4 linked regions of the Homo sapiens genome follow. The main gene of each other region encodes a partner of the protein of the gene in region 4 in a complex. Each region holds a gene or a part of one and is shown on either strand. Other genes may lie near its edges.

Region 1 (3,500 bases), on a different chromosome or scaffold from region 4:
GTTGGAGGTGGGGCCTGGTGGGCGGTGACTGGTATGAAGGTGGATTTCCCTCTTGGTGCTGTTCTCCTGATAATGAGTTCTCATGAGATCTGGTCATTTAAAAGTGTGTGGCACCTTCCCCACTCTCTCTTGCTCCTGCTCCGGCCATGTAAGATGAGCCTGTTTCCCCTTCACCTTCTGCCATGATTATAAGTTTCCTGAGACCTCCCCATAAGCTGAGTAGACACCAGCATCATGCTTCCTGGAGAGCCTGCAGAACTGTGAGCCAAATCAATCTCTTTTCTTTATAAATTATCCAGTCTCAAGCATTCCTTTATAGCATTGCAAGAATAGACTAATACATAGCCAAAACAATCTTGAAAAAGAACAAAATTGGTGATCTCACTCTTACTGATTTCAAAATATATTACAGAGCTACATTAATCAGGCCAGGTGCAGTGGCTCACACCTGGAATGCCACCACTTTGGGAAGCCGAGGGTGGGCAGATCACTTGAGGTCAGGAGTTCGAGACCAGACTGGCCAACATGGTAAAACCACATCTCTACCAAAAATAAAAAAATTAGTTGGGTGTGGTGGTGTGTGCCTATAATCCCAGCTAATCAGGAGGCTGAGGCAGGACTACTGCTTGAACCTGGGAGGCAGAGGTTGCAGTGACCCAAGATTGCATCACTGCACTCCAGCATGGGTGACAGTGTGACTCTGTCTCAAAAAAAAAAAAAAAAAAAGGCTACATTAATCAAAACATTGTAGTGCTGGCATGAAGAAAGACATACAGGCAGAATAGAGGGCCCAGAAATAAACCTTCACATATATGGTCAAATGATCTTCCACATGAGTACCAAGACTAAGACTATTCAATGGGCAAAGGACGGTCTCTTCATCAAGACACTGAGAAAACTGGATATCCACATGAAAAGGAATAAAGTTGGACTCTTACACCATATACAAAAATTAACTCTAAATACCTAAGACCCAAAACTATAAAACTCCTAGAAGAAAACATAGGACAAAAGCTTCATGACATTAGATTTGGCAGTGATTTAAACATGATACTAAAGGCACAGGCAACAAAATCAAAAATAGACAAGAGTGCAGCAAACTCAGAAACTGGCAAATTAAAGAGCACAATCAACAGAGTAAAATGGCAACCTACAGAATGGGAGAAAATATTTGCAAATCATGTATCTGTTAAGGAATTAATATCCAGAATATATTTTTTAAAACTCCCACAATTCAACAACAAAAACACAATGGAATATTATTCAGCTTTAAAAAGGAAGAAAATCCTGTTGCAAGTACAACATGGATGAACCTTGAGAATATTATGCTAAGTGAAATAAGCCAGTCTTGGAAAAAGATTCCAAGATTCCAAGCAAACGGGCTAAGGCTAGAAGAACAGAAGAGACATATCATATGCTACCTGCTGTAGGGCAGACAAGGTTTGGAGTAACTGCCCACTTAACCACAAAACAAAACAAATAGAAACACTCTTGGGAGGAATGTAACAGAATCCTGAGTCTTTACACATATTAATATAATCCACAAGGTCTAAGACCCAACAGAAATGTATTAGATATATGAAGAAACAGGAAAATATGACCCATAAAAGAGACAGTCAATGCAGACCAGCTCTGAGATGACTCGGCTGTTAGAATAAGAAGAATTTTAAAGCAGCTATAAGAAATCATACTTAAGGGTGTAACAAAAGATACTTGTCACGAATGGAAAAAAAAGAAAACAAAATTCAGCAAAGAAACAGAAACCAGAAGAAAAATTTACAAAGAAAGACTAGAACTGAAAAATACAATTAAAAAATTCACCAACTGGGCTTAACAAGTTGGAAGTGAAGAAGAAAAGTGAGTGAACTTGACAATGGATTAATAGAACAGAAAAAAAATTGAAATAAATAAACAGAGCCTCAGGGACTTGTAGTACAATACCAGAAGATCTGACATGTATAATTCCATTACCAAGAAGAAGAGACAAAGGGGCAAGTTTTCTTCTACAGGCAGCAAAATGAATGAACCTGCTTAACAAGTTAACATTAATAATGAGCAACTGTGACAAATGGAAACAAGCAGCTTTCCCCAGTGAGTTTCAAATTTAAACTGGAAATGTCATCTGTATCAGTAGGACTTTCATAGATAGCCCCTTTAGGACTTCAAAACAGCCAGGTTATTAACCAATGCTTTCATGTTTTAATGCCTCTAGTTCCTCAGGTAAGGAACATCTACTAGTATTATAGAAGACACTCTTATTTACAAACAGAGCTTACAAGAGAAACTCTATTGCCTTTGAGGAAAATTTTCCAGAAATAGCCTGAACAATCAAACAATCATATAGTAACAGCAACAAGAACCCGTCAAAGTTACACAGAGATGGCTGCTCCCTTTCCTGCTAGGTGGCACAAGACAAATTTCAAACCTTCAAGTGGCTCACTGTAACCCATGTGTATATAATAGAAGCTTTAAAAACAATTGTAAAATGTTTGATATTTTTAAAACCAAGAAGTCATTATTCATTCAAATTATATTAAGACATAGAAAGAAAAGAGAGATTACCTTGACAGCTTTCTGGGAATTGGGCAGTGCTTCTTCTATGTCTTCTAAAAGAATTCCTCCTAATCCTCGCTGGTCATGCTGATCTAAGAGCCTAAGTAGGGCCTTCTTATCTCTCACGTTGTACTTGGGCTTGAAAGCATACTTCCCATCTATTACTTCAATTTTGGGATTGTTGACTAAAGCCTGTAACAGTGATACAATTGGAATATATTAACAAATGGAACATAAATATATATATATATTTTTGAAACGTAATCTTGCTCTGTCGCCCAGGCTGGAGTGCAGTGGCGTGATCTCAGCTCACTGCAACCTCCGCCTCCTGGGTTCAAGCGATTCTCCTGCCTCAGCCTCCCTCTCCTGCCTCCCTCCCTCTCAGCACCTGGGACTGCAGGTGCGCACCACCACACCCAGCGAATTTTTGTATTTTTAGTAGAGACGGGGTTTCACCACATTGGCCAGGCTGGTCTTGAACTTCTGACCTCAGGTGATCCACCCACCTCAGCCTCCCAAAGTACTGGGATTATAGGCGTGAGCCACTGTGCCCAGCCCATATACACATTCTTAATTCTACTAATTATTTTAAAATACAACACTAGCCAATACAGTGGCAAATTAAAAGTACCTTATGAATACAAACTGGCAGGCCTAAAATCCTGGACATCCAGAATTCCAGAACAGTAGATCAGCACGGTGCTCACTTTTTATAAAAGAAACTGTGTTTTATTTACATAAATTCTTTGAAGAGAAATAAACCATTTTATCACAACTACTTTGAAAAAAGCTGAACCCATATTCTTCTAGTAGTCAAAATGTGTAGGAATCAATAAAACACCTACAAATATTAATAGACAAAGTGAACTGAGTAGTGCCCACTCCATCTGCAAAGTACAGCTTATCACATACTGGCATTATAAAGTAAGGAACATAACCCTTACTAG
Region 2 (2,191 bases), on a different chromosome or scaffold from region 4:
CTGTCCACTTCCACTTACCCTCCCTCCCAGGTCACCACTGGAATGTAGAGCAGAGAGCCAGCTCCTCCAGCTGCTTCCAGAACCACCAAGTCCTCTCGTCCTACTCTCTTCATAGTCATCTCCCATGCCTGTAGCTAAAAGCCTCTACCCAAAGCTTCCATAAAAATAATGAACATTTCTAGACTATGCAAGTGACTCATTCAAGTCAGCATGAACTGACTTCCTAAGAGACTGAAAGTGTTGGAAGGACATGAGCAGGGCTCCTTGCCAATTCAAAATTCTGCGCCAAATGGGTGGTATCTTCTGGGCCTGGGGTACCCTCAGGAGCCAAAAGCACAACTCTCTCCCAGACTGAAAACCACACTGGAGGATAAATGTTGAGAACAGTCAGCCAGGAGACTGAGATAACCCTGAACCCAGATACCAAAAGGCTGGAATAGATCCTACATTGACAAGTGATCAGCTGGCTGTGGGCCAGAAACAATACACCACAGACAAACTGGAAAAAACGATTTTACAGTAAATGGACTTTTTACAAAAAGGGGAGGGGCAGTCTGAAAAAGTAAAGTTTAATTTAAAAATCATATACATAAAGCTTCTGATTCATTTTCAGCTCTCCCACTGTGTCTTTCACAGGCGAGTCAGTTTCCCATTGAGTGGAGGCCAGTTAAAGATGCCGCCACGGTGGACAGTGAGCCAGCCCTTCCTCAACAGGTGAGCAAGAGCGGCTGCCACTCAGGCTTGAACAATGCCCATGACCTGAGTGACTTGGCAGAGAGGCTGGCTTCAGGCGAGGTTCAGAAGGCTAGCTTCTTCATCAGGAGATAAACTCTGGAGTCCACCTCGAATCCATGCAGGTTGTTGGCATCCCCCTGCAGCCTCATGAGCAGGCCCCCATAGGACACGTACGCAGAGCTGAAACAGAAGGCCCCATCCCGTGATTCTGGAGCACTGCCACTCAGCAGCTCTCAATCTCAGCCTAAGAAAGAGAAGAGGCATCTTCCTACTGTTGTGTCACTAGGAACCAAAATTCTGACAAAGATCAATGCACAGGTATGTGCAAGGCACTGTTCCATCTCAGCCTAAGAAACAGAAGAGGCATCTTCCTACTGTTTTGTCACTAGGAACCAAAATTCTGACAAACATCAATGCACAGATATGTGCAAGGCACTGTTCTTTATATTATCGAGGGTGGAAAACACCTAGATGCCCCAAATCAGGGGAATGTTCAAATGAATCAAGACATATCCACTTACTGAAATGTTATGCAACTATTGAAACGTTTAAGAAAAGCTTTACACCGGCCGGGCACGGTGGCTCACACCTGTAATCCCAGCACTTTGGGAGGCTGAGGCGGGCGGATCACGAGGTCAGGAGATCAAGACCATCCTGGCTAACATGGTGAAACCCTGTCTCTACTAAAAATACAAAAAAAAAATTAGCCAGGCATGGTGGTGGGTGCCTGTAGTCCCAGCTACTCAGGAGGCTGAGGCAGGAGAATGGCGTGAACCCGGGAGGCGGAGCTTGCAGTGAGCCGAGATCGCGCCACTGCACTCCAGGCTGGGCAACACAGCAAGACTCCATCTCAAAAAAAAAAAAGAAAAGAAAAGAAAAGAAAAGCTTTACACTAACATGGGGAAACATGTTTTACATAATGTTAAGCAAAAAGAGCAGAAGAAAACATAATAAACACCACAGTCTCCAAGAAAAAAACAGAACACCAGGATATGCAAAAAAGTCTATGTAAAAGGTTCTCTCTGGATATGGAATTACAGGTGACTTTTTTTTCCTTCTTCACATTACTCTTCTGCATTTCAAATTACTTACAAAAAGCACATATTGTTTTAATAAGACTTTAAAGAAAAGAAAAAATAGCTGGACAGGAAAACCAAGGAACTAGGGATTGGGTTACAGAGTAGCCACACACACACACACACACACACACAGCCTTTTACAGAGTAGCAAAACACACACACACACACACACACACACACACACAAAGCCTAACAGTCTAATCACTTAATGCTGCATTTATTCCTGGGGAAGCAAGTCTCCTTTGCACTTTACACAGTGAGATAATCAGTTTCTCATGTGGACCACTGGGCCAGGAGGGCCTGACAAAGGGCAGTCTACATTTCAGACTGGAAACTGCTCCCAGAACTATTTCTTTCTAGTTCCCACCTCGGTCTGA
Region 3 (3,500 bases), on a different chromosome or scaffold from region 4:
AAAAAAGCTTTAACAGTTGGCTGTAATTTGGCTTTTATTATCCTTTATTAAAATACAAATGTCAATGCTTTTCCTGCCTTTTTAATACCATGTCAGTGTAACATAGGTATTTATTTTGCTCATCCCTGTGATCTGTGCATTTTTGCTGCGTGGATGTGATTGTTTGGTTTCAGTTAGAAACGTCATAGATTTGCTGTTTGAATATGCCAAGGTGGGGACTTAGACATTATGTACGTCTCACAAATCCTACCTGCATACCAGTCAGCTCTATTGAGGAAGACAATGTAAAACTAATGTAAACTACAGTTTGCATTTCCCTGAAAACAGAATATTGTTTTTAAGAGGGTTAGAAACAACCAGTGGGAAAGGCACATGCTGCTTTGTTTAGTTTTTCCTTGTTCAAACTTTGTTGGTCACATTTTCCCATCTGTATTCTTTTTTATTAAGAAAACAGCTTAGGGAGGCTGAGGTGGGAGGATTGCTTGAGCCCAGGAGTCCGAGGTTGCTACAAAAACACCATTGCACTCTGGCCTGGACAACAGAGAGACCCTGCCTCAAAAAAAAAAAAAAAAAAAAAAAAAATTCTACTTGTACCTTATTCCCTATGAGAATACTTATCAAACTTATCTAAAAAAGAAAAATAGGAACAGCCATATGCAAAGTCAGCCCAACAGGAAAGGACATATTAGATTAAAATACATTGCGGCCTGGGCTTAGTGGCTCACACCTGTAATCCCAGCACTTTGGGAGGCTGAGGCAGGCAGATCGCTTGAGTCCAGGAGTCGAAACCCTGTCTCTACAAAAAAAAAAATACAAAAATCTGCCTGTTGTCCCAGCCACTGGGGAGGCTGAGGTAGGAGGTCAAGGCTGCAGTGAACCTTGATCATTGCTACTGCCACTCCAGCCTAGGTGACAGAGTGAGACCCTGTCTCCAAAAAAAAAAGTGTATATGTATGTGTGTATATATAGCAAGAGAGAGTTCTGTGATCAATTGAAGGCAAAAACAGTAACACTGAGAGGGGCTTTGCTTCCCTTCCTGAAGATCATGTCATTGGGGTGGGTTCCTGTAAAGGGAATTTTCCAAGAGAAAAGAGAATTTTCATGACCTGTAGACTCTTACAAATCCATTTTACCTGCTTCCTTATGGTATGTTTATTCAAAGCACCTGTGTACCATATTTATTCACTTACACAGCATTACTGAATCTGGAAATTTTCAGTTAGGTATATTTTACATAATTCCCACCCATATAACTCAGTCCATACAGTTCACAGTTTTCATTCCCTCATAGCAATGCAAAAAATTTTGATGAGTTACTACTACTAAAACTAGTTAAGTAAAAGATGATTCTTAAGAATTTCCAGGCTGGGCACGGTGGCTCACGCCTGTAATCCCAGCACTTTGGGAGGCTGAGGCAGGCAGCTCACGAGGTCAGGAGATCGAGACCATCCTGCTCGGTGAAACCCCATCTCTATTAAAAATACAAAAAATTAGCCGGGCCTGGTGGCGGGTGCCTGTAGTCCCATCTACTCAGGAGGCTGAGGCAGGAGAATGGCGTGAACCCGGGAGGCGGAGCTTGCAGTAAGCTGAGATTGTGCCACTGCACTCCAGCCTGGGCGACAGAGGGAGACTCCATCTCAAAAAAAAAAAAAAAAAAAAATGAATTTCCAGCTATACCAAAATGTTACTAATGTATCTTATATTTCAGGCATGTCTAAATCAACTTTTAGTATGCCTCAGGCATTTGTCACCAACCTTTTATATTAACATGAAACTTAGAAAATTTTTGATAGAATCCCAGAGTTCAAAAGGTATTAGGATTTTTGCCACTGAAGTAAAAAAGAGAAAAAAAGATATTTATGAGAAAACTATTGAACAGTGACTGTGTTGTACCCGAGCAAGTTAGAGGAACGCCACACTTTGAGACGAATTTAAAAGTCCTTTATTTAGCTGGCAGCCAAGAGGTGGCTCACACTTGGAATTCTCTCAGCTCCGAGGAAGGGGCTTGATTTTCCTTTATACTTTGGTTTAGGAAGGGGACGGGAGCTCAGTTGCAACAATTCTACAGAAGTAAAAACATGCAAAAAATTAAAAAGACAAATGGTTACAGAGAAACAAACAGTTCCAGGTGCAGGGGCTCTAAATCTATCATAAGATGTCAGGTGTGGGGGCTCTGCCAGACACAAACTCAAGGCTTTATGGTGTATCTCTTGAGCGAAATCCTGGGAACTTCGTACATTGCTTGCTTCAGTACCTTATGAGTTAATTGGACTCTTTGATATGTTGAGAGTCAGCTTACACAAGTTAACTCCTTGAGGAAAGGGGGTGGGTAAGGAGTCCTTGATGTCCTGTAAATGAAGGAACCAAATGGAGTTCCTCCGGCTTTCTCAGCTAAGGGAGAGCTTATTCACATGGAAACAAGGCTAGGTGATTAAGGGAGAAAGGGACAGTCTGAAAACAAGGTTAGTAAAAACAAGGTTAGGTATTAGAACTGCAAAGAGTATTAAGTGAAATAAGTGAAGGAAAATATGAGCTCTTATTTTTAAAAAGTTGTGTTGGGGCAAATGTTAAATATCTTTCTTTCTCTGGACATTATTAAGAAAGATAGAGTGATGTGAATGATAGGAAGCCCACCTGTAACCACTTAGCTGACATGTCCAACTATGGGTGAACAGGAAATAAGCGACATTCACCTAGGCTGTTTATTGGAATCTGACTAGCATTATTTGATTTGGCATACTTTACATGTCCAGAACAAGGCTGTTGGTGCTTGGCACCAAGAAATTTATGACTTTTTTTTTTTTTTTAAATAAAGTCCTAAAGGTAGCATTAAAATGACTTAACTGGAGGCAGGAGGATCACTGAAGCCCAGGAGTTTGAAGCTGCAGTAAGCTAAGAAGGTGCCACTGCACTGCAGCCTGGATGACAGAGTGAAACTTTGTCTCTTAATAGAACTATGGACTGAAGTTGTGATATTGAGTGTTATATTTCTCAATAAAGGTTTTTTCTTTTAATACTGTATTAGGTCAAATTCAAGGTCTTAATTCCTTGAATTCCAATTTCCTTGTGAAATTTCATGTGATTAATTTAAAATTCCAGGGATCCTATCTAACATCACAGTTGATGGATATAACAATGTATTTTGAGAAATCAGTTTTGGTGAACAGTAACAGCATTACTGATAATAGGCAACAAACACTACTGCATTTTATTTCTGATAGGCATTATAGGTGGTAATCCAAATGATTAATGATTTTATTGCTCTTTACATTTTCTAGAACAGGTGATTTGACATAATTGTACTTTTTTCTGAGAAGTTGGTAGTGTACTTACTACTCTATTTTGCAGTTATACAATAAATCTTACTTAGCTGACAACTAGGAGTAAAAGCTCTGACAAAAAGCCTCTGCTGTAACTAAAATACTGAGATCATTCTATCTTAACAAACTTAACAGATGGGGAAGGGGTATATTTTAAAGATGGAGAAATGATGCAGTTTG
Region 4 (3,905 bases):
CATTTGCACAGGTCACAGATGAGCAGATGCTCAAAGAGTCGATGGCTCCCAAAGGTTAAAAAAACACCTTTTTCGGCTGGGTGTGGTGGCTCACGCCTGTAATCCCAGCACATTGGGAGGCCAAGGCAGGCGGATCACGAGGTCAGGAGATCGAGACCATCCTGGCTAACACGGTGAAACCCCGTCTCTACTAAAAATACAAAAAATTAGCCGGGCATGGTGGCGGGCGCCTGTAGTCCCAGTACTCGGGAGGCTGAGGCAGGAGAATGGCGTGAACTGGGAGGCGGAGCTTGCAGTGATCCTAGATGTTGCCAGTGCACTCCAGCCTGGGCGACAGAGCGAGACTCCGTCTCAAAACAAAACAAATAAAACACCTTTTTCCCTCTTTGGTGTTTTTTTGTTTGTTTGTTTGTTTGTGTGTTTTTTTTTGAACTGAGTTTCGCTCTTGTTGCCCAGGCTGGACTGCAGTGGCGCAATCTCAGCTCACTGCAACCTCCGACTCCTAGGTTCAAGCAATTCTCCTGCCTCAGCCTCCCAAGTAGAGAAATGGGATTACAGGCATGCACCACCACGCCTGGCTAACTTTGTATTTTTTGTAGAGACAGGGTTTCACCATGTTGGCCAGGTGGTCTCAAACTCCTAACCTCAGGTGATCTGCCCCCCTCAGCCTCCCTAAGTGTGGGGATTACATCCGTGAGCCACCACGCCCGGCCTGTTTTAGTTTTGTTGTTTTGTTTTTTTGAGACCGAATCTCGCTCTGTCACCCAGGCTGGAGTGCAGTGGCGCGATCTCAGCTCACTGCAAGCTCCGCCTCCCGGGTTCATGCCATTCTCTGGCCTCAGCCTCCTGGGTAGCTGGGACTACAGGCGCCTGCCACCATGCCCGGCTAATTTTTTTCTATTTTTTTGGTACAGATGGGGTTTCACCGTGGTCTCGATCTCCTGACCTCGTGATCTGCCTGCCTCGGCCTCCCAAAGTGCTGGGATTACAGGCGTGAGCCACCATGCCCAGCCCCTGCTTTAGTTTTTAATCATTTTCTTTGGTTTTAAAATTTCTGAAGAGTCATAGGTTGGCTCAGCTCCAAAAGCAACCCCGGTAAATGGCACGAAGTCAGAGCGTCCTCCCCACCAGGTCATGAGCCTCCGAGCCTGTGGGGCAGTTTCTGTACCCCTGCTCCCCTGGAACAACAGCCCCCAGGTCTGCCTGCCTGCTCCACTTTGGTTGAGTTCCTGGGGCTCCACTGTAAAATCAGTCGATCAATCATTGCTGGGGGGGCAGGTTCGCTTTTGCTGTATTTTCCTTAGAATCTGCTTTGTAAGTTTTAGGGAGAAGAATTTGGCATTTTATAGAATTGTGTAAAACCTGGATGTTAACCAAAGGAGAAATGCCATCTCTTTTTTTTTTTTTTTTTTTTTTTTTTTGAGACAGTCTCACTGTCACCCAGGCTGGAGTGCAGTGGTACCATCTCAGCTCACTGGCTCATTGCAACCTCGACCTCCTGGGTTTAAGCGATTCTGCCTCAGCCTTGCGAGTAGCTGGGACTACACACGTGCACCTCCCCACCTGGCTAATTTTTGTACTTTTAGTAGAGAAGGGGTTTCAGCATATTGCCCAGGCTGGTCTCCAACTCCTGGCCTCAAGTGATCTGCCCGCTTTGGCATCCCAATATGCTGGGATTACAGGTGTGAGCCATGGTGCCCGGCCAGAATGCCATCTCTTGATCAGATGTTAAATCTACTTAGCTAAGAACTGTTCAGGCTGGGCACGTGGAGAGCGGATCGCAAGGTCAAGAGTTCGAGACCAGCCTGGCCAAGAGACCAGCCTGGCCAATTTGGTGAAATGCCATCTCTACTAAAAATACAGAAATTAGCCAGGCATGGTGGCGGGCACCTGTAATCCCAGCTACTCGGGAGGCTGAGGCAGGAGAATTGCTTGAACCCGGGAGGTGGAGGTTGTGGTGAGCCGAGATCACACCATTGCACTCCAGTCTCGGTGACAGATCAAGACTCCAACTCAAAAGAAAAGAAAAGAAAAGAAAAGAACAAATGGTGATGGTGTCTCGCCATGTTGCTCAGGCTGGTCTCAAACTCCTGGGTTCAAGCGAGCCTCCAGCCTCGGCCTCCCCTCCCAAAGTGCTGGGATGACAGGCTTGAGCCACTGCACCAAACTGTCACTGTTTTTTGGTGCATGGCTCAGTGTGGTAAAGCCACTCACAGTGTTAAGCAGCAGTTTCATTATCTTTCACACCAGCCTGGGCCTTGCCCATGTTAGATGCATTCCTATTAAATGCAGTCCTTTTTTTTTTTTTGGAGACAGATTCTTACTCTGTCACCGAGGCTGGAGTGCTGTGGGGCAATCTTAGCTTACTGCAACCTCTGCCTCCTGGGTTCAATTGATTCTCCTCCCTCAGCCTCCTGAGTAGTCAGGACTACAGGCACATGCCACCACGCCCGGCTAATTTTTTAATTTTTTGTAGGGATGAGGTTTCACCATGTTGTTCAGGCTGTTCTCAAACTCCTGACCTCAGGTGATCCACTTGCCTCGGCCTCCCAAAGTGCTGGGATTACAGGCGTGAGCCACCGCGCCCAACCTGGCCTGCAGTCCTGTTTTTTAAAGCTTCCCTGAGCAATGAGACAACGTTACATTGTTCCAATGGAAACAGTATGTTTTGTCATTAAAGAAAAATACATCTATAAATTAAGATAACAAAAGATCTGGCTGGGCACGGTGGCTCACACCTGTAATCCCAGCACTTTGGGAGGCCAAGGTGGATCATGAGGTCAGGAGTTCGAGACCAGCCTGTCCAACATGGTGAAACCCTGTCTCTACTAAAAATACAAAAAAAAAAAAAAATTAGCTGGGCGTGGTGGCAGGCGCCTGGAACCCCGGCTATCTGGGAGGCTGAGTCAGGAGAATTGCTTGAAGCCAGGAGGCGGAGGTTGCAGTGAGCCGAGATCACATCACTGCACTCCAGTCTGGGCGACAGAGCGATACTCTGTCTCAGAAAATAAAAAAATAATAATAAAAAATAGCAAGAAACCAGTGTGACTGGATTGGGGCCAGACTCTGAGTCCGAGGGAGGTGCTGAGACTCCAGCAGCACATGGGGACCTGCTCTTTGAGGGACTCGGGGCAGAACGGGAAGGCAGGAAGGGCTGGCTCTATCCGTGTGGTTTCAGGGAGTCCTGTGCCACAGCCCAAGTCCCCGGGGGCCACATCACCTTGAAGGCTATGTGGGTGGTGCCCTGGGGCTCGCCCCCTGCAAGCACAGATGCAGGGTGGTGCCAGGCCCGGCATGAGCCCCCCTGTGCCTGGCCCGCAGGAGGAACAAGGTGCTGAACCACTTCAGCATCATGCAGCAGCGGCGGCTCAAGGATCAGGACCAGGACGAGGATGAGGAGGAGAAGGAGAAACGTGGCCGCAGGAAGGCGAGCGAGCTGCGCATCCACGACCTGGAGGACGACCTGGAGATGTCGTCCGATGCCAGTGATGCCAGTGGTGAGGAGGGTGAGTACGGGCGCCTGGGCATTAGGTCACAGAGGTGCCTGCTCAGGCAGTGCCAGTGAAGGCAAAGTCTACCATCGCTCACAGTGGCCCTAGAATGAGAGGCAAGTGGGGCCGGGCACAGTGGCTCACGCCTGTCATCCCAGCACTTTGAGAGGCTGAGGCAGGCAGATCACCTGAGATCAGGAGTTTGAGACCAGCCTGGCCAACACAGTGAGACCGTGTCTCTACTGAAAACACAAAAATTAGCTGGGCATGGTGGTGCATGCCTCTAGTGCCAGCTACTCGGGAGACTGAGGCAGGAGAATTGCTTGAACCCGTGAGATAGAGGTTGTGTTGAGCCGAGATCACGCCACTGGACTCCAGCCTGGGCAACAGAGAGAGACTCCGTCTCAGAGAAAA

Evidence for each region. The genes of interacting proteins can lie anywhere in the genome.
Region 1: GTF2F1 (region 4) and GTF2E2 share a complex: the UniProt entries of both Homo sapiens proteins name them as parts of the TBP-based Pol II pre-initiation complex.
Region 2: GTF2F1 (region 4) and POLR2H share a complex: the UniProt entries of both Homo sapiens proteins name them as parts of the TBP-based Pol II pre-initiation complex.
Region 3: GTF2F1 (region 4) and GTF2H5 share a complex: the UniProt entries of both Homo sapiens proteins name them as parts of the TBP-based Pol II pre-initiation complex.

The regions. Positions count from the first base shown.
Region 1 is NC_000008.11:30,609,737-30,613,236, forward strand, and holds part of GTF2E2 (transcription initiation factor IIE subunit beta), read right to left. Parts: intron 2,746-3,500; coding exon 2,563-2,745; intron 1-2,562. UniProt on the Homo sapiens protein: Recruits TFIIH to the initiation complex and stimulates the RNA polymerase II C-terminal domain kinase and DNA-dependent ATPase activities of TFIIH. Both TFIIH and TFIIE are required for promoter clearance by RNA polymerase.
Region 2 is NC_000003.12:184,366,901-184,369,091, reverse strand, and holds the end of POLR2H (DNA-directed RNA polymerases I, II, and III subunit RPABC3), read right to left. Parts: intron 980-2,191; coding exon of another isoform or gene 916-979; coding exon 798-915; coding exon of another isoform or gene 787-797; 3' UTR 501-786; downstream 1-500. UniProt on the Homo sapiens protein: DNA-dependent RNA polymerase catalyzes the transcription of DNA into RNA using the four ribonucleoside triphosphates as substrates.
Region 3 is NC_000006.12:158,192,350-158,195,849, forward strand, and holds part of GTF2H5 (general transcription factor IIH subunit 5), read left to right. Parts: 3' UTR 1-3,500. UniProt on the Homo sapiens protein: Component of the general transcription and DNA repair factor IIH (TFIIH) core complex, which is involved in general and transcription-coupled nucleotide excision repair (NER) of damaged DNA and, when complexed to CAK, in RNA transcription by RNA polymerase II.
Region 4 is NC_000019.10:6,382,912-6,386,816, reverse strand, and holds part of GTF2F1 (general transcription factor IIF subunit 1), read left to right. Parts: intron 1-3,321; coding exon 3,322-3,506; intron 3,507-3,905. UniProt on the Homo sapiens protein: TFIIF is a general transcription initiation factor that binds to RNA polymerase II and helps to recruit it to the initiation complex in collaboration with TFIIB. It promotes transcription elongation.